2 separate regions of the Homo sapiens genome follow, and region 2 is linked to region 1. Evidence: fine-mapped expression QTL. A gene starts in region 1. The other region holds a variant in brackets. All regions are shown on one strand. Distances are between the middles of the regions. Region 1 holds the start of KLK4 (kallikrein related peptidase 4). Region 2 overlaps LOC105372441 (a long non-coding RNA gene).

Evidence for each region.
Region 2: its variant is fine-mapped to the expression of KLK4 in lung (TOPMed, PIP 0.99).

Annotation. Positions count from the first base shown.
Region 1 is chr19:50,908,907-50,914,127 of GRCh38, reverse strand. It overlaps KLK4 (kallikrein related peptidase 4), which reads left to right and starts at 2,733. Exons shown (of 6, transcript NM_004917.5): 1 at 2,733-2,789; 2 at 3,379-3,450; 3 at 4,714-4,876. The coding sequence starts at 3,390.
Region 2 is chr19:50,839,909-50,845,129 of GRCh38, reverse strand. The region is part of intron 2 of LOC105372441 (a long non-coding RNA gene); the gene reads right to left. Among named protein-coding and RNA genes, the nearest start is that of KLK15, 8.9 kb to the right of the region's middle. RefSeq lists enhancers at 193-714, 715-1,237 and a silencer at 4,523-4,710. The variant G/C (reference allele first, on the strand shown) is at 2,818.

The DNA.
Region 1 (5,221 bases):
ACAGAGACAGAGATGGGAGGAGAGAGACACAGAGAAAGATGGACAGACAGGTGCGGAGACAGACAGAGAGACAGAGACAGAGATGGGAGGAGAGAGAGACAGAGAAAGATGGACAGACACACAGGTGCGGAGACACAGACAGAGAGACAGAGACAGAGATGGGAGGAGAGAGAGACACAGAGAAAGATGGACAGAGACAGGTGCGAAGCCACAGACAGAGAGACAGAGACAGAGATGGGAGGAGAGAGAGACACAGAGAAAGATGGACAGAGACACAGGTGCGGAGACACAGACAGAGAGACAGAGACAGAGATGGGAGGAGAGAGAGACACAGAGAAAGATGGACAGACACACAGGTGCGGAGACACAGACAGAGAGACAGAGACAGAGATGGGAGGAGAGAGACACAGAGAAAGATGGACAGACACAGGTGCAGAGACAGACAGAGAGACAGAGACAGAGATGGGAGGAGAGAGACACAGAGAAAGATGGACAGACAGGTGCGGAGACAGACAGAGAGACAGAGACAGAGATGGGAGGAGAGAGACACAGAGAAAGATGGACAGAGACAGGTGCGGAGCCACAGACAGAGACAGAGATGGGAGGAGAGAGACACAGAGAAAGATGGACAGACACAGGTGCAGAGACACAGACAGAGAGAGAAGGCAAGGTGAGACAGAGACAGGAGGAAAGAGAGACACACAGGGGCAGACAGAGACAGACAGAGATCAGAGGGTCACAGACAGAGGTCAGAGGGAGAGCGAGAGAGAAGGGATCAGAGAGAGAAAGGGACAGGGACAGGGAAAAGAGAGACAGAGACAGAAACCTGCCAGGGCTTCCTGTTCTGTGGTCCCAGCCTATGTCCCGTCCTGCCCAGAGTTATCTGGGGGCGCACGGGCCCAGGACAGAGTTGGGGGAGGGTCTCACTTGGGATGCTTCCAGTCTGGCAGGTGAGAGAAACAGAGACAAGGGGGAGAGAGACAGAGATGGGACCAGAGAGGCAGAGGAAAAGAGAGCCAGAGAGAAAGAGAGACAGACACACGGGGTGGGCTGTGGGGGAAAGAAGTAAGGAAGGAGAAGGAAAGAGTGTTAGAGACCCAGGAGAGACAGAGAGACACAGAGACATTCCTGCCTCGTCGCGGTCACCTGCGGGCACTATCCCTCACCCGCGCCGGCTCCGCGGTCTACACCCACCCACTCCTTGGATGATCTCACCCGGCCTCGTGGCTGTAAACACCACCTCTCCCCTGATGAGTCCCCGCTGTTTCTCGGCAGTCCTGACCTCGGCCTGCCCCTCCGTGCACCCTCCGCGGTCTACGGCACCCTCTCACCCCCCACCCCCCTTCCCGCACCTATGCGTCTCCACAAGATCCGTAGAGCGCAAGCCAGCAGACCAAGCCTCCACGCCATCCTTGGCCCCTCTGCTCCTGGCCCCCCACTTTCCATCCATCGGGCAGTAACTTGGCTCCACATGCAGAGGGGACCCCGTGTCCATTCACCTCTCTTCTCCCTTGACCCCGTCACCTCCCACCTGGGCTGTTGCCACTGCCCCCCGCCCCGCCCCCACCATCACTCTCCAAGCTGGAAGTTTTTAAAAAGTAAATAAGATTATGTCACTCCATCCTCGTGCTTAAAATCCATTGCACTTAAGTAAAACCCAAGCTCCTTAATCCTGGTACGTAAACTCCTGCAGGCCCGCCCGGTTCCCGGTCTGCGCTCCTACCCGCCCTGCCCTCCTACCCGCCCTGCCCTCCTCTGGCTGGAGCCAAGTTCTCCCCTGCACCCCGCAACCGCCCCTGCTGCGGCGACCCTCCTCCTCCTCTTCCCTGGGATCTCAGCTTAAATGTTCCCCTTCTCTGAGTCTCCCCGACCACCACCTTATATGCTGGTCCCTGCAGTTTTCCTTTATGGTCTGTGCCCCCGGGTAGGACGCGATCCCCAGTGACGAGGACTTTGCTGGTTCCTCCTGTGGCCCCAGCACCTGCCGCAGAGCTCGGAGTGTGGTAGGCACTCAGCTGCTTTTCACTGAGCGAAGACTTTTTAGTTCTCCCGCTCACCGAGAGCCTACAATGTGCCTGGCACTGTGTGCCTTTCCCTGAATTACCTCTTTGAATCCACTTGGGAAATGGGGCATAATGGTCACTCCAGTTTTACAGTTGGAAAAACAGGCTCACAGGGGTGCAGTCACTTGCCCAAGGTTCCAAAAATAGTTCGTGATGTAGGCTGGATACGAACCTGGGGAAATTTGCTGGAGAAGCACAGAAAGAGAGGGATGAAGGAGGAGGGGAGAGAGAGAGAGAGATTTAATTTAAAAAGAGAAAGAACATGAGAGAGAACAGGAGAGAATGAGAGGAAATGAAAGAAAACACGAGAAAAATAATGAGAGAGAGAATGAGAGAAAGAAAGAAGAAGAGAAAGAGAAAATGAGAGATACAGGCAAGAGAGAGGTATCTCATGAGAGAGAATAAGAACATGAAAAGAGAAAGAATGAGAGAGAGAGAGAGAAAGAAAAAGGAGAGTGGAGTCTAGGATCTGGGCAGGGGTCTCCTCCCTGGGTCCCTAGACCCTGCTGCCAGCCCCTTCTGGGCCCCCAACCACTGCCTGGTCAGAGTTGAGGCAGCCTGAGAGAGTTGAGCTGGAAGTTTGCAGCACCTGACCCCTGGAACACATCCCCTGGGGGCAGGCCAGCCCAGGCTGAGGATGCTTATAAGCCCCAAGGAGGCCCCTGCGGGAGGCAGCAGGCTGGAGCTCAGCCCAGCAGTGGAATCCAGGAGCCCAGAGGTGGCCGGGTAAGAGGCCTGGTGGTCCCCCACTAAAAGCCTGCAGTGTTCATGATCCAACTCTCCCTACAGCTCCATGTCGCTGGATTCTCAGCCTCTGTGCCTTCTGTCTCCACATCTCTCTAGACAGATCTCTCACTGTCTCTAGTTAGGAGTCACTGTCTCTAGTTAGGGGTCTCTCTGTCTCTCTGAATCTATATCTCCATGTCTAACTCTCAGACTGTCTCTGAGGATATCTCTCAAGCACTCTGTCTCTCCGGCTCTGATTCTCTGTGTGTCTTCCCTCCATGCTTGTTTGTGGGTGGCTAGACACCATCTCTCCCCATTCACAGATGGCTAGATGCTTTCTCTAAACTTTCCTTTCTACCTAGTTCTCTCTCTCTCTCTCTTTTCCCATCTCTCTCTCTCTTTTTCTCTCTCAGTCTCTAAATCTGTCTCTCTAGGTTCTGGGTCCATGGATGGGAGAGGGGGTAGATGGTCTAGGCTCTTGCCTACCTAATAACGTCCCAGAGGGAAGAAAGGGAGGGACAAAGAGAGGGATGGAGAGACTTGGGCTGAAGATCCCCAGACACGGCTAAGTCTCAGTCCTCATCCCCAGGTGCTGACGTGATGGCCACAGCAGGAAATCCCTGGGGCTGGTTCCTGGGGTACCTCATCCTTGGTGTCGCAGGTATCTGAGTATGCGTGTGTGTGTCTGTCCGTGCTTGGGGGCACAGTGTTTGTTAATGTTCAGGTGTGACTCAGTGTCCTCTTGCTTGTGACTGCAAAGCTGCCTGTGAGACGGTACCGTGTTATCCGTCCCCCATGGCTGTGCCCCTGCAACTCCTTGTATCGTGGTAAATTTGTGTGTGGCAGTGTGCCTGGGTGTGTGGTTGTACCTGTGAGACTCTGACAGTTTGTGCCTCTGAATATCTGGTGGAGTGACAACAGTGTAATGATGATATGGGGACAGGGGAAGCCGAGGGTGCAGGAGATTGTGCTTCCTGGGGCGTGATCCATTGCTGGGAATCTGTGCCTGCTTCCTGGGTCTTCAGTCCTGAGATCCCCCTCTCCCATCCCCAAGGAACTCACCTCACAGGACTATAAAACGGTGTTTTGGTGTGCATGGGCTTGTGGCTTGGTGTGACTGTGGGCAAGGCTGGGAGAGGATAGGAGTGACTCGGCGCAGGACCGACTCTTTGAGCATCAGTCTGCGCAGACAAGTGACCCGATCCTTGCTCCCAGCAACAACTCCACCCCCTGAGCTTTAATTCACCCCGAAGGACCCGATCCTACTGCTATGAGCCTAGACTCCTCTGTTGAACCCCTCCTGACCGTGGCTTTGCACCGCGATGGCACCAGTCTCACCTCCAGAGCTCACCCCAGAGCCCTGACTCCGCCCCAGAAGCCCTGGTCCCACCTTCTGAGACTGCCTCTAGCCATAACCCAGCTCTTGAAGCCTTGATGGCGCCCCTGCGCTGTAACCCCAACCCTAGGAGCACTGATCCCGCCTTCTCAGCCCACCCCCATGCCCTGACTCTCCTCCCAGGAGCCCTGACTACCCTGAATCCCTGACCAGGCTCCTGCACCGTGATCACCGCCCCTGGGAGCCCTAGGCCTATATCCTGGACCAGCCCCTGAAGCTCCGATCATGACCCCTGCACCATAACCCCACCCCCAGGAGCCCTGGGTCCGCCCCCTGGGCCCGCCCCCAGCCCTGACTCGGCCCCCCAAGAGTCCTGACTGCTCCTGAAGCCCTGACCACGCCCCTGCTCGGTAACCCCTCCCCCAAGAGCCCTGGGCCCGCCTCCTGAGCCCGTTCCCAGCCCTGACTCCGCCCCGAGGAGCCCTGACTGCTCCTGAACCTCTGACCACGCCCCTGCTCGGTAAGCCCACCCCCAGGAACCCTGGGCCCGCCTCCTGGTCCCGATCCCATCCCTGACTCCGCCCTCAGGATCGCTCGTCTCTGGTAGCTGCAGCCAAATCATAAACGGCGAGGACTGCAGCCCGCACTCGCAGCCCTGGCAGGCGGCACTGGTCATGGAAAACGAATTGTTCTGCTCGGGCGTCCTGGTGCATCCGCAGTGGGTGCTGTCAGCCGCACACTGTTTCCAGAAGTGAGTGCAGAGGTAGGGGGAGTGGGCAGGGCCTGGGTCCGGGGGCGGGGCCTAATATCAGGCTCATCTTGGGGTGCTCAGGGGGAAACAGCGGTGAAGGCTCTGGGAGGAGGACGGAATGAGCCTGGATCCGGGGAGCCCCAGAGGGAAGGGCTGGGAGGCGGGAATCTTGCTTCGGAAGGACTCAGAGAGTCCTGACTTGAAATCTCAGCCCAGTGCTGAGTCTCTAGTGAACTAAGGCAAGTTCTTGTCCCTGAATTTTTGTGAATGAGGATTTGAGACCATGGTTAAGTAGCTCTTAGGGTGTTTAGCGAAGAGGGTGGGGTTGGGGTTAGGAGATGGGGA
Region 2 (5,221 bases), 69 kb after region 1:
AAGCTAATGTGGGGAGAAAATGGTGGCTAGGAAGCAGGACTAACTTGCAGCTCCCACTCAGATGGACAGAGCAGCATGTGGAGACTCACGTCTTGAATTTTTGCTCCAAGAACTACTGCAGGAACATACCAGGAAAGCCAAGAGAACCCACAGACCCTTTGAAGGAAGCACATTGCTGCTGCAGGCTCCAGGAGACAGCTGAAAAACTGTGAGTGCTCAAAGTGTGAAAAGTGTGAAGGGGGGATCATCCGCCCCTGCACACACATCCTCACTGGGGAATCTGAAGGTCCAGATCATGGGAGAAGGATTTGACCTTACCTGGAGCCGAGATGAACTTAGAGAGCTGAATGAAATACGGGGGGTAGAGAAAGCAGCAGGAAGAGCCCTGAGGGTACTGTTGGTCCCCAGGGAAGCCATTTCTGACTTCATCTCACAGGGGTCCTTGGGGAGGGCTGCCAACGGAATTGGGGAAAGACTACAGGGAGAAGGAAGCTTCCAGCTGAACTTTGCAACAATTTCAACTGAACACGAAGTTTCCTGGACAGAACTCAGGGGAGGGGGTGAACTGTGAGTGCAGACATGAGCACAGAAGCTGCAGCAGGTGGGGAGGCACGAAACCTGAAAGCCCTGCTTGCTTTCTCAGCAGGGAGGCTTGTAGCCTGGGGCGAGTTCCCAGCCCTGCGCACCTGCTGCCTGCAAACAAACTGTGCATTGATTGGGGATGCACACAGTGGGAATGAGACCAGCTTTTTGGGCTGCATGGGAGCTGGGTGAGCCCTGAAACTGCTGGCTTTCTCCCACTTCCCTGGTGACCCACATGATGCAGTAGAGGCAGCCATAATTCCCCTGGGAACATAACCTCATTGGCCTGAGAACCACACCCCACCCCCACACAGCAGCCACAGCGACCCTTACCCAAGGAGAGTCTGAACTCAGACACCCCTAACCCTGCCCCCACCTGATGGTGTTCCTCTACCTGCCCTAGTAGCCAAAGACGAAGGACATACTCTCTTGGAAGCTATCTGGCCCCATCCTCCACCTGAGAAACCTGAATACTTATCCAGGTAACCCTAGGGCAAGCTGTTTTCCTCCCTGTACTACTGCAGCTGATGCTGTCTTGAAAGTGCCGTCTCCTGGCTGGAGGCCAACCAACACAAAACCAGCGCACTAAAAAATAATACAACCAAGGAACCCCAGCGAGTCTACTTTACTCCTCTGTTACCTCCAACGGAGCAGGTGCTGATATCCACAGCTAAGAGACCTGAAGATGAATCACATCACAGGACTCTTTGCAGACACCCCCCAGTACCAGCCCAGAGCGCAGACGCTCCACTGGGTAGCTAAATCCAGAATCTGAGCAGCCCTTGAGACCCAGATCTTCCTTCTGACATAGTCTACAAAGGAGAAGGAACCAGAAAACCAATTCTGGTAATACGACAAAACAAGGTTATTTAACACGCCAAAAAGATCACACCAGCTCACCAACAATGGATCCAAACCAAAAAGAAATCTCTGAAATTGCCAGAAAAAAAAAAAATCAGAAGATCAATTACTAAGCTACTCAAGAAGGCACCAGAGAAAGGTGAATACCAACTTAAAGAAATTTTAAAAAGTGTTACCGGATATGGACAGAAAAATCTCCAGAGAAATAGCGTAAATCAAAAACAATTACAATTTCTGGAAATGAAGGACACACTTAGAGAAATGCAAAATACACTGGAAAGTCTCAGCAATAGAATCAAACAAGTAGAAGAAAGAACTTAAGAGCCCAAAGACAAGACTTTTGGATTAACCCAATCCAACAAAGACAAAGAAAAAAGTATTTTTAAAAAATGAACAAGACCTCCAAGAAGTTTGGGATTATGTTAAACAACCAACCTAAGAATAATTCATGTTCCCAAGGAAGAAGATAAATCTAAAAGTTTGGAAAACATATTTGAGGGGAATAATCTTCCTTGGCCTTGCTAGAGATCTAGATATCCAAACATGAGAAGCTCAAAGAACGCCTGGGAAATTCATTGCAAAAAGATGACCACTGGTCGGGCGTAGTCGTTCACGCCTGTAATCCCAGAACTTTAAGAGACTTAGGCAGGCCAATCACAAGGTCAGGAGATCGAGGCCATCCTGGCTAACACAGTGAAACCCCTTCTCTACTAAAAATATAAAAAAGTAGCCGGGTGTGGTGGCACGCACCTGTAATCCCAGCTACTCGGGAGGCTGAGGCGGAAGAGTCTCTTGAACCCGGGAGGCGGACGTTGCAGTGAGCCGAAATCGCACCACTGCACTCCAGCCTGGGCAACAGAGTGAGACTCCATCTCAAAACAAAACAAAACAAAAAAAAGATGACCCCCCTAGGCACATAGTCATCAGGTTATCTAAAGTCAAGATGAAGGAGCATCAGGTAACCTATAAAGGAAAACCTATTAGATTGACAGCAGATTTCTCAGCAAAAACCCTACAACCTAGAAGGGATTGTGGTCCTGTCTTTAGCCTCCTTATACAAAACAATTATCAGCCAAGAATTTTGTATCCAGTGAAACTATTGGCAGAACACACAACAACTCCGGGTCAGAGACAAAGGACTTTATTACTCATGGCACAGCCGGCAGCATGAGATTCATGTTCACATGGGCTCACCTTGCCCCCCAGGTCCTACAGGGATGATCAGAGTGGCTCAGGCAGATGCTGCGCACACAGTGGTTTGCGTCAATGCTGGGGAACCTCTGTTTACATGTATTTACAAATCTTCAATCTTATAAGGGAGATGCAAGGAAATCTGCTTGACTTTGAAACTCGGAGAGATATTATCTTTGTTAT[G/C]TCGGACTGCTGATCCACCTGCCCCGGAAGGACATGTTGTATTTACTATCCTAGCCAATAAATAAATCATTATGGAAGGACATTATCTTTATTATCTAAGACAGTGAACAAACATGCTCTGATGCTCTAGAGAAACATCCATAAAAAGACAATCTGGAACTCAAAAGTGGCTAATACCTTTTTCAGGAGACAGGCAGAAAGGTAAGAGAGCCATGGATAATTGTCTCCTAACACCATTCAGTTCATGCTCTCGATGCTTCCCTACAGGATAATCTCAGGCTTCCCAACCAGGCATTCAAAGTGCAGGCATTTGGTCTGGGATACAAAACCCAGCCTCAGTTTACCTGGTTTTTTTGTTTGCTTGTTTGTTTGTTTTTGAGACAGAGTCTCACTCTGTCACCCAGGCTGGAGTACAGTGGTGCGATCTCGGCTCACTGCAACCTCCACCCCACCATGGGTTCAAGCGATTCTCCTGCCTCAGCCTCTTGAGTAGCTGGGATTACAGACACACACCACCACACCTGGCTAATTTTTGTATTTTTAGTAGAGACAATGTTGGCTAGGCTGGTCTCAAACTCCTGACCTCAAATGATCCGCCCGCCTCAGCCTCCCAAAGTGCTGGGATTACCGGCGTGAGCCACCACGCCTGACTTGATCCTGTCTTTCTCATGCTATCTTCTCACTCCCCGTTTCTCACGGTTTTCTGCCTTCACCATTCCCTCCCTCTTTTGATGCCTCTTCCTCACTCCAGTCCTTACTTTATCTCTTCTACACTCCCCGACTCCACCCTCCTTTGTTTTTGCCCGGTCCCTATTTCTGCAGGCTTCTCTTTCCAGCTCCCCGTGTCTCCTTCTCTAGACAGGAAGCACCCATCTAAAAAGGTGAATGCTCCTGCAGTGAACAATCATCTCCAGGCCCACCTGGCCAAGGCTAGAGCATCCCCCAGCCCTCCTGACCTGCGTCCTGAGGTGTGGAGTCAGGTGCAGGGGAGAAAGGAAGCTTCAGTGACAGGTATAGCCCAGTGGTTCCCCAATGGGGCAAAGTTGTCCCCTCCACCCGCCCCACCCTCCTCCACCCATCCAGGGGCACACTGGCATTTTCTGGCAATCTCATCACATTCAGGTTCTGCAAAGACACACATCGGGGGGGTTGCCACTTTATTTGTGGGGTGCAGAGATGGAGGAAGAGAGAGGAGAGAGGGTCTGCCCTGAGATAGTAGACAGTGACAGGTGGTAATGCTCTCCACGGACCACTGAGAGGGACCTGGGGACGCAACGCGCCACACACACAGCAAGGGTGGAGCTGAAACCTGGCAAGAGCCACATTATTCTTTTTTTGCTAATTTGTAATTGTTGTGGGTACATAGCAGGTGGATATATTTATGGGGTACATGAGATATTTTAATATAGGCATATAATGTGTAATAATCACATGAGGGTAAATGGGGTATCCATTACCTCAAGCATTCACCCTTTGTGTTACAAACAATCTAATTATATTCTTTTTGTTGTTTTTAAATGTACAATTAAATTATTATTGACCACAGTCACCCTGTTGTGCTATCGAATACTAGATCTTATTCTATTTCCTCGTACCCATTAACCATCCGCACTTCCCCACTACCCACATACCCTCACCCTCCCCAGCCTCTGATAACTATGCTTCTACTGTCTATCTCCATTAACTCAGTTGGTTTTGTTTTTGTTTTTTGTCCCTATTTCTCCAGGCTTCTGGAGATGGAGTCTCGCTCTGTCTCCCAGGTCGCTGGAGTGCACTGGAGAGGTCTTGGCTCACCACAACCCCCTCCTCCCAGGTTCAAGCACTTCTGTGTCTCAGCCTTCCAAGTAGCTGGGAATACAGGCACGCGCCACTGCGCCTGGCTAATTCTTGTATTTTTAGTGGAGACAGGGTTTCACCATGTTGGCCAGGCTGGTCTTGAACTCCTTACCTCAGGTGATCCACCTGCTTCAGCCTCCCAAAGTGCTGGGATTACAGGTGTGAGTGCCCGGCTAATTGTTTCAATTTTTAGCTCCCAAAAATAAATGAGAACCTGTGAAGTTTATCTTCTGTGCCTGACTTATTGCACTTAACATCATAACCTCCAGTTCCATCCATGTTGCAAATGACAGGCTCTCATTCTTTCTGATGGCTGAATAGTGTTCCACTGTGTATATGTACCACATTTTCTGTATCCATTCATTTGTTGATGGACACTTAGGTTGTCTCTAAATCTTAGCTATTGGGAATAGTGCTGCAATAAACATCATTCTTGGCAATACCACAGCCAGCTTTCCTGCACTGGGAGGTGGGGTGTTCCATGATGACTTTTTACAATCTCAGCCTGGGCAACATATCAAGACCCCATCTCCACAAAAAAAAAAACAAAACGTAAAAATTAGCCAGG